Linked DNA regions of Homo sapiens. The protein of the gene in region 2 purifies or fractionates together with the protein of the main gene of each other region. This does not show direct contact. Each region holds a gene or a part of one and is shown on either strand. Other genes may lie near its edges. The genes, in order: PRTFDC1 and STPG1.

Region 1 (3,824 bases), on a different chromosome or scaffold from region 2:
AACAAAATTTAGATTATATAAATGCAAGTCACCATATGCTGCTGTCGCCACTCAAACTTGAGGACCTTTCATTGAGGCAGGAGGGAGTGAGAAATGGTGAGAAATGCACACGATGAGCCCAAGAGGGACCTGGACCCGAAGGACTACTCGGGAGGAAGGAGGCAAGGCAAACAAGCCAACCTACAATGAAGAATGACTGATCTAGCATACAGAGTTGAGAAAGGGCTCAGGAAGCCTGGTGCATAACAAGAAATATGCATAATTGAGTCACGTGGCCCTGGTGTTCTAAAGCAAGCAGTATGCAGTGATACGATGCCAAAGGAAACACTCTCAACAACACAAAGGAAAGTTCAAGCAGAAGGCGTTACGACGCTGCATTATGTGAACAGGTGCGCGGGCCACAGCAACTAGAAAGCAATTCTCCCGCTGTACTCAGTGTCTTGGCTGTTTAAAGGGCTGGAAAGCAAAAGCCAGGACACAAGATGAAAGGCAACGGGATTGTTCAACTTGAGGAAGAGAATGTGGAGGTTGCATTAATGCTGGTCTTTGGGTTCATGATGCAGAGGATATTAATGAGCTCCCTACTGAGGGCAGAATGAGAGGAAATGGATTTAAGCACAGTGCAAGGTACTTATGAAAAGCAAAAGAAGATTCATTGAAAAGATGATGATTTTTTGTCAGAAAGGATTCTTTTTTTTTTTCTGAGACCGAGTCTCGCGATCTTGGCTTACTGCAGCCTCCACCACCAGGGTTCAAGCCATTCTCCTGCCTCAGTTTCCCGAGTAGCTGGGAAGACAGACGTGTGCCACCATGCCAGGCTAATTTTTGTAGTTTTAGTAGAGATGGGGTTTCACCATGTTGGCCAGGCCAGTCTCGAACTCTTGACCTCAAGTGATCCATCCGCCTCAGTCTCCCAAAGTGCTGGGATTACAGGCATGGGCCACTGAACCTGGCTATTTTTTGAGAAAGGATCTCACTCTGTTGTCCAGGCGTGTGATCATGGCTCACGGCAGCCTCTACCTCCACAGGCTCAGGAGATCCTCTCACCTCAGCCTCCTGAGTAGCTGGGACTACAGGCATGCAAAACTACGCCTGGCTAATACTTATTGGAGAGAATTCTTAAGGAACAGACAATAGCTCTCCTTCTTCAGAAGTCTTGAAACAGAATAAAGGTGCACTGGTCCAGTGATTTTCAAACTTGTTTCAGTGTTTTGGAATCTTACAGGTTTGTTTATTACAGTATTATAGATGAGAGATTTATTTGCTTACTTTTAATGGAAGTGTACTTGGGTACAGCCAGTGGGCTTATAGCCTGGGCAAAGTCATCTCCACAGTGACTATGACCAACGATGCTTTCACAAGAAGAAAACGACTGGTTCATGCTCATAGAAAGTACTGGAGGTACTTATTTTCTAGGGGGTTACATTATGGAGTCCCTTGCTAGGAAAATAAGTACTAGAGGTGAGGGACTTATTTTCTAGGGGGTTGCATTATGGAGTCCCTTGCTAGGAAGCCTGCTTGATTCCTCCAAACTGCAGAGTTTCTTGAAAAAAAGAGTAAGAGAGGAGAAGCAAGAGCAGAAGAGGTCAGAAGTTACATTGAGGAGAAAAGAAAGAATCAATCAGGAGAAAGGAACGCAAAGTACAAAGCCTCATAAATCCAGAGAGAAAGAAGGAACAGAGATTCTGAGCTAGCTAAAAGAATATGAAGCCGGGTGCGCACCTGCAGTCCCAGCTATTCAAGAGGCTGAGGCAGGAAGATCATTCGAGGCCAGGAGTTTGAGACCAGCCTAGGCAACAAAGTGAGATCCCATCTCAAAAAGAAAAAAAAAAGGTAAGGTGCAGTGGCTCACGCCTGTAATCCCAGCACTTTGAGAGGCTTAGGTGGGTGGATCACCTGAGGTCAGGAGTCCAAGACCAGCCTGGCCAACATGGTGAAACCCCATCTCTACTAAAAATACAAAAATTAGCCAGGTGTGGTGGTACCTGTAGTCCCAGCTACTTGGGAGGCTGAGGCAGGAGAATCACTTGAACCTGGGAGGCAGAAGTTGCAGTGAGCCAAGATCACGCCACTGCACTGGGCGACAGAGTCAGATTCCGTCTCAAATAATAATAATAATAATATGAGCAAATCCCAAGAAACCCTGTTTGTAACCAGGGTTATAATAATGACTTTATAGGGAGCAATGCAATCCTTCCATTAGGCAGGGCAACTCACACTGGGAAAATGAGAGCCCAAAGCCTATTTAGAAGGCCAAAACTTGAGATGTCATAGAATAAAAGGATGATGGATCAGCAGGACAATCATGAATCAGAGTGACCTATCCTTAGCTGGTAAATGCAGGCAGCTCCTACACTTACATTTGCAATAGCAGATGTTACTTGCAGATGTAGTGGAAGAGTCAGGGCAGTGACTGAAACCAGATTGCCTGGGCTTAATATTGGCCTGACACTCATGGCTACATGACTTTGGCAAGCTATTTAAGCTTGCTGTGCTCAATTTCCTCATCTGTAAAATAGGTACAACAACAGCTCCTACCTTTAGAGAGCTATTGTGTGGATGAAATGAGCTAATCTCTGTATAGCTCTTAGAATAGTGCATGGCACATCACGACCTCTTCCTAGTGTTAGCTGCTATTATTTTATTGCTGTTATTATAAGTGATATAAGAAATTTGTCATTGAAGTGAATGTTTTTCAACTTCAGTTAAAATCTTATTTATACACTGAGTATCCTGTACTATTTCCTTAGACAATTTCTGCTTAGTAACCGCATGCAACCTTGACTACATCCAGATTATACCTTTGATAATAGTAATAGATGAGAACATGCGATTGGGTCTCTCTGCCCAGAACTGACATGGTCCAGAGTTAACACATCCAGCACAGGCATGAAACTTGTTTTCAGAATGTAGAGTCACTGGCTAAATGTCGCTGGCATGTCACCCATCCATACTGCACTTCTCTTTCGCTAATGTTTGTTCAGCTTGCTGAAGAGAACTGTAGCCAAATTATCCCAGGAGCTTTGGAGCAAATGTAAGTTATAAAAATCAAGCTGAAGTCTGCCTATGCAAGTGAAAAAAAATCGCCTCTAGTGTTAGAATAATAAATAATTAGGCTGCGTGTTTATCCTTCTTGGTGTTAGAACTAGGCTTATTATGGGGAGAAGGGAGGAGAGTGTCCTAGATGAGGAAGCCCTAGAGAACACACATCTGAAGTCAAGTGTGAAGATGGTATCTAGAGATACCTGCTCTGCTAATTCTCTGTGTTACGGAGCTTTGGTTTGGAGGTGAAGGGGAGCTGTCTTAGATTTCCCCTTCTGTGCGTTACAATTCAGGCTTGCTAAAGGTCACCATTGTGCGTTGTCTGGTAATAGTTCCGGATGATGGCATAAGAATCCCTCTAAACCTCCATAGCACCTCTCCTTGTCTGACTGGTGAGAATAGAGGCCAAGGCGGGGATCCTATGTGTCTGAGTCAGTCCAGCGGGATCAGGTCTTCCTCTACTCCCTGAAACTTTTCAGCTGACTTCTCTGTAGTTAAGGTGCTGTGTGAAACATACAAATAAAAATACCCAATGCACGGAACAGAGTTCCTGTGAAAGATGCAAATTAGAACATTGAAGACCCTCATTTTGAAGGGTTCTGTTTTCCCTATCAAGGTGGGGGAGATCATGAGGAATCCGTGGGACTATCAGCCCTACACAGTTTCAAATCCACATGCAATGCTGTCAAATAGGAAACCAAAGATTCTTAAACATAAAATGAAACACCATAAGCACAAAACAAACAAACAAACAAACAAAAAACTGAAAAACACTTACAGTC
Region 2 (3,824 bases):
TTAAAACCCTACATTAATACAAGCCTACTGCAGGATAGGCAGTGTTAACCACTTCACATGGATCAGCCTAAGAGGAAGGTACTGTTATCACTCCCAGTTTATGGAGGAGGAAATAGGCTCAGAAGTTTAAGTGACTCATCGAGAATCAGAGCTATTAAGTGGCAGGCCATAACCTTGAACCCAGGACTGGATACTCTGGACTGCTGCGCTGGCCCCCACGTAGGAATCGCTTAAACATATGTTGTTGATTCGGAAAGTGGTATATCTTCACTGCTCTTTCTTAGATTCTAGGTCCATGCCATCCTGTCATGGACAGTTATACAGGTGGACCAGTGAGGCACACCTGGGCAGTGCTCTGTTCACATCTGTCCTGCACCTGCTCTCATCCTGCCTTCACAGGTATGCAGTGAGAAGACTGGAAAGCATTATTAACAGTGTGGTCTTTTGGTGGTAGGATTGGGGATTGTTTTTTATTTGTTTGTTTGTTTGTTTTGAGACGGAGTCTCGCTCTGTTGCCCAGGCTGGAGTGCGGTGGCGCGATCTTGGCTCACTGCAATCTTCACCTCCTGGGTTCAAGCGATTCTCCTGCATCAGTCTCCTGAGTAGCTGGGACTACAGGTGCACGCCACCATGTCCAGCTAATTTTTGTATTTTTAGTAGACATGGGGTTTCACTGTGTTAGCCAGGATGGTCTGGATCTCCTGACCTCATGATCCGCCCACCTCGGCCTCGCAAAGTGCTGGGATTACAGGTGTGAGCCACAGCGCTCGGCCATGGATTGCAGATTGTTTAAAGTTTTTTTGTAATTTATCATATTTTCTTAAATGTTGACAGTGTACATACATTATTATTATAGTAGTCCTCCCTTATTCAAGGGGGATATGTTCCAAGACCACCAGTAGATGCCAGTGAAACAGTGGATAATACCCAAACTGATTACTGTCAATCAGACTGTTTCTGTTCATATCTTCCACTCACAAATTTAATGCTTTTTCCATCTTAACTAAGCACTTATCATGCTCTGTGGCAACAGCTTTTTATAGTTTGAGGTGAAGCACCAAAACTAGCACCAATTTTTTTCCCCTTTGAAATTTGATGGATAGAAGTTTTATTCTTACTGTAGATCTTAGCAACCTCAGAATACAGTTTTTTTCTTGCCTTATTAAGTCAAGAACTTTCACCTTTTCACATAAAGGAGGCACTTTACAGCTTGTCTTTGGCATGTCCAAAGTGCTGGCATCACTACTCTTGTGCTTTGGGGCCATTATTAAGTAAAGTAAGAGTTACTTGAACACAAGCACTGAGACAACGTGATGGTGGATCTGACAATCGAGATGGCTACTAAGTGACTAATGGTGGGGTAGCAAATACAGCTTGAATGTGCTGGACAAGGATGATTCACATCCCAGGTAGGGTGGAGTCAGACGATAGGAGATTTCATCACATGCCTCAGAATGGTGCATAATTTAAAGCTGATGAATTATTTATTTCTGGAATTTTCCATTTAATATTTTCAAACCACAATTGACCATGGGTAACTGAAACTGGAAAATAAAGCTACAGACAAGGGTGGACTACTGTAAAACAGGAAGCTTAATATTTTTCTAATCACTCATAATTCCAGAACACTAATACATTTTTTAATAACAGCTTTATTAAAGCTAGGGCAGTAGATGGTTCTTACTAAAATGGTATAACACTGAGGGGTGGTAAATGAATAGTGGCTGCTTTGGTTATTTTTTGAGACAGGGTCTCACTTTGTCACCCAGGCTGAAGAACAGTGGCACGAACATAGCTTACTGCAGCCTTGACCTCTTGGGCTCAAGTGATCCTCCTGCCCCAGCCCCTAAGGTAGCTGGGACTACAGGCACATGCCACCATGCCTGGTTAATTTTTATATTTTTTGTAGAGACGGACTTTCACCATGTTTCCCAGGCTGGTCATGAGCTCAAGCTATCGCCTAACCTCGGCCTCCCAAAGTGCTGGGATTACAGGAGTGACCCACCACACCCAGCCCTAGGGGCTGCTTTTATAGATACTAAAAGACCTTGTTAAGCTGGATTGGTGATTGTGCTTTGATCATTATTGATTTGTTTCTGTTATTTTGAATCTCTTAATTTCTTGAAGAATGTTGTCAATAATTCTATTAAATATCAAATTTTTAGTATAGATTGTCCACCAAAAAAAAGTTGAAAATTGCTGCTGTGAGGATTACAGAATAAAGTAAGGAAAAATACTGCATGGAAAAGGACCAGTAGAGTGTAAAATCATTTATTCAATCCTTTACTCATTAGTATATATAAATGGTATAAGTTCCTTAGGGAAAAAAATGGGCAAAATGAAACCCAAGTCTGCTAATAAAAAATAATTGCTATGGAAATTAAATTGTGCCCTTGCTATTAACAACTAAAAAGTAGTTAAATGTGTTAAACAACTCACATTGGACAACAGGCACAGTACAATAATCCCTGAAGGAAGAAAAACACGGTGAGTCCTACAATTGCCCCCATTTAGTACTGGGGTCAGTTTTTAGGCCATATTGTAGGAAATCCAAATGAATTCTAGATTTCTGAGTTGAGAAGATAAAAATAAGAATTCAGAGAGGCCAAAGAGGCTAGAATTTATAGGGAGAACCCTAAAGGAAGGAGCTGCACCAAAAATGTTCAGAAACCTGAAGAGAGGTCTCCTTAAGTTTTTGGCTGAGCAGTAATCTGCACATGCATGAGAAGAAACTAAGACTGGGGAAATACCCATCAAAAGGCCATAGGCTGAACAATTTCTGGGGCTTAAACAGAACTGGGAATGTTGCATGTTACCATAAACCAGAATGCAGAGACATGGTATTAGATAGGAATTGGGTAGAGTTCACAGAAATGTCATGCCTTAGTAGTGGGGATAAATTATTCCCAGAATAAAAGCTGCTCTGGACTTGCCATAACAAAGTTTAAAAGCTTGAAAGGGTCAGATGGATCTACAAGTTACTGAAAAGTGTGCCACATCCTTTGCAGGAATATATCAAAACCCAGCACCCAGCAATGTAAAATTCAAAATGTCCAATATCTAATACAAAATTACCAGACATGAAAAGGAAAATATGACCCATATCTGAGAGGAAAATCAACCAATAGGAACAGACTTAAAAATGACAGATTATAGAATTAGTACAAAGAAACCTTAAAGCAGCTACTATGAATCTTACAAATATTCCTAAGGATGTAAAGGAAACTGAACATGATGAGGCTAGAAATAGAAGACATAGAAAAAGAGCCCAAATGTAACCTCTAGAAAGAAAAAATACAATATTTGAAATAAGAATGCAATGGATGGGATTTGCAGCTGATGAGACTTCAGAAGATCAGTGAACTTGGCCGGGCATGGTGGCTCATGCCTGTAATCCCAGCACTTTGGGAGGCCAAGGCAGGTAGATCACAAGGTCAAGAGTTCAAGACCAGCCTGGCCAAGATGGTGAAACCCCGTGTCTACTAAAAATACAAAAATTAGCCAGGCATGGTGGCAGGCACCTGTACCCAGCTACTCGGGAGGCTGACACAGAGAATTGCTTGAAGCTGGGGGCAGAGGGTGCAGTGAGCCGAGATTGCGCCACTGCAATCCAGCCTGGGTGACAGAGCGGGACTCCGTCAAAAAAAAAAAAAAAAAATCAGTGAACTTGAAGACATGACAATATAGACTACCCAAATGAAGGACAGAGAGAAAAGAGACTTAAAAATATTGAACAGAATATCAATAACCTTTGGGAAAATATGAAATGATCTAATATAACTGTAGCCCCAGGAAAGAAGGTGGCAGAGGCAGAAAAACTATTT

The links.
Region 1: the proteins of STPG1 (region 2) and PRTFDC1 purify together in Homo sapiens (affinity purification with mass spectrometry; one large-scale study listed by BioGRID and IntAct). This does not show direct contact.

Annotation. Positions count from the first base shown.
Region 1 is NC_000010.11:24,851,498-24,855,321, forward strand, and holds part of PRTFDC1 (phosphoribosyltransferase domain-containing protein 1), read right to left. Parts: coding exon 3,821-3,824; intron 1-3,820. UniProt on the Homo sapiens protein: Has low, barely detectable phosphoribosyltransferase activity (in vitro). Binds GMP, IMP and alpha-D-5-phosphoribosyl 1-pyrophosphate (PRPP). Is not expected to contribute to purine metabolism or GMP salvage.
Region 2 is NC_000001.11:24,407,278-24,411,101, reverse strand, and holds part of STPG1 (O(6)-methylguanine-induced apoptosis 2), read left to right. Parts: intron 1-3,824. UniProt on the Homo sapiens protein: May positively contribute to the induction of apoptosis triggered by O(6)-methylguanine.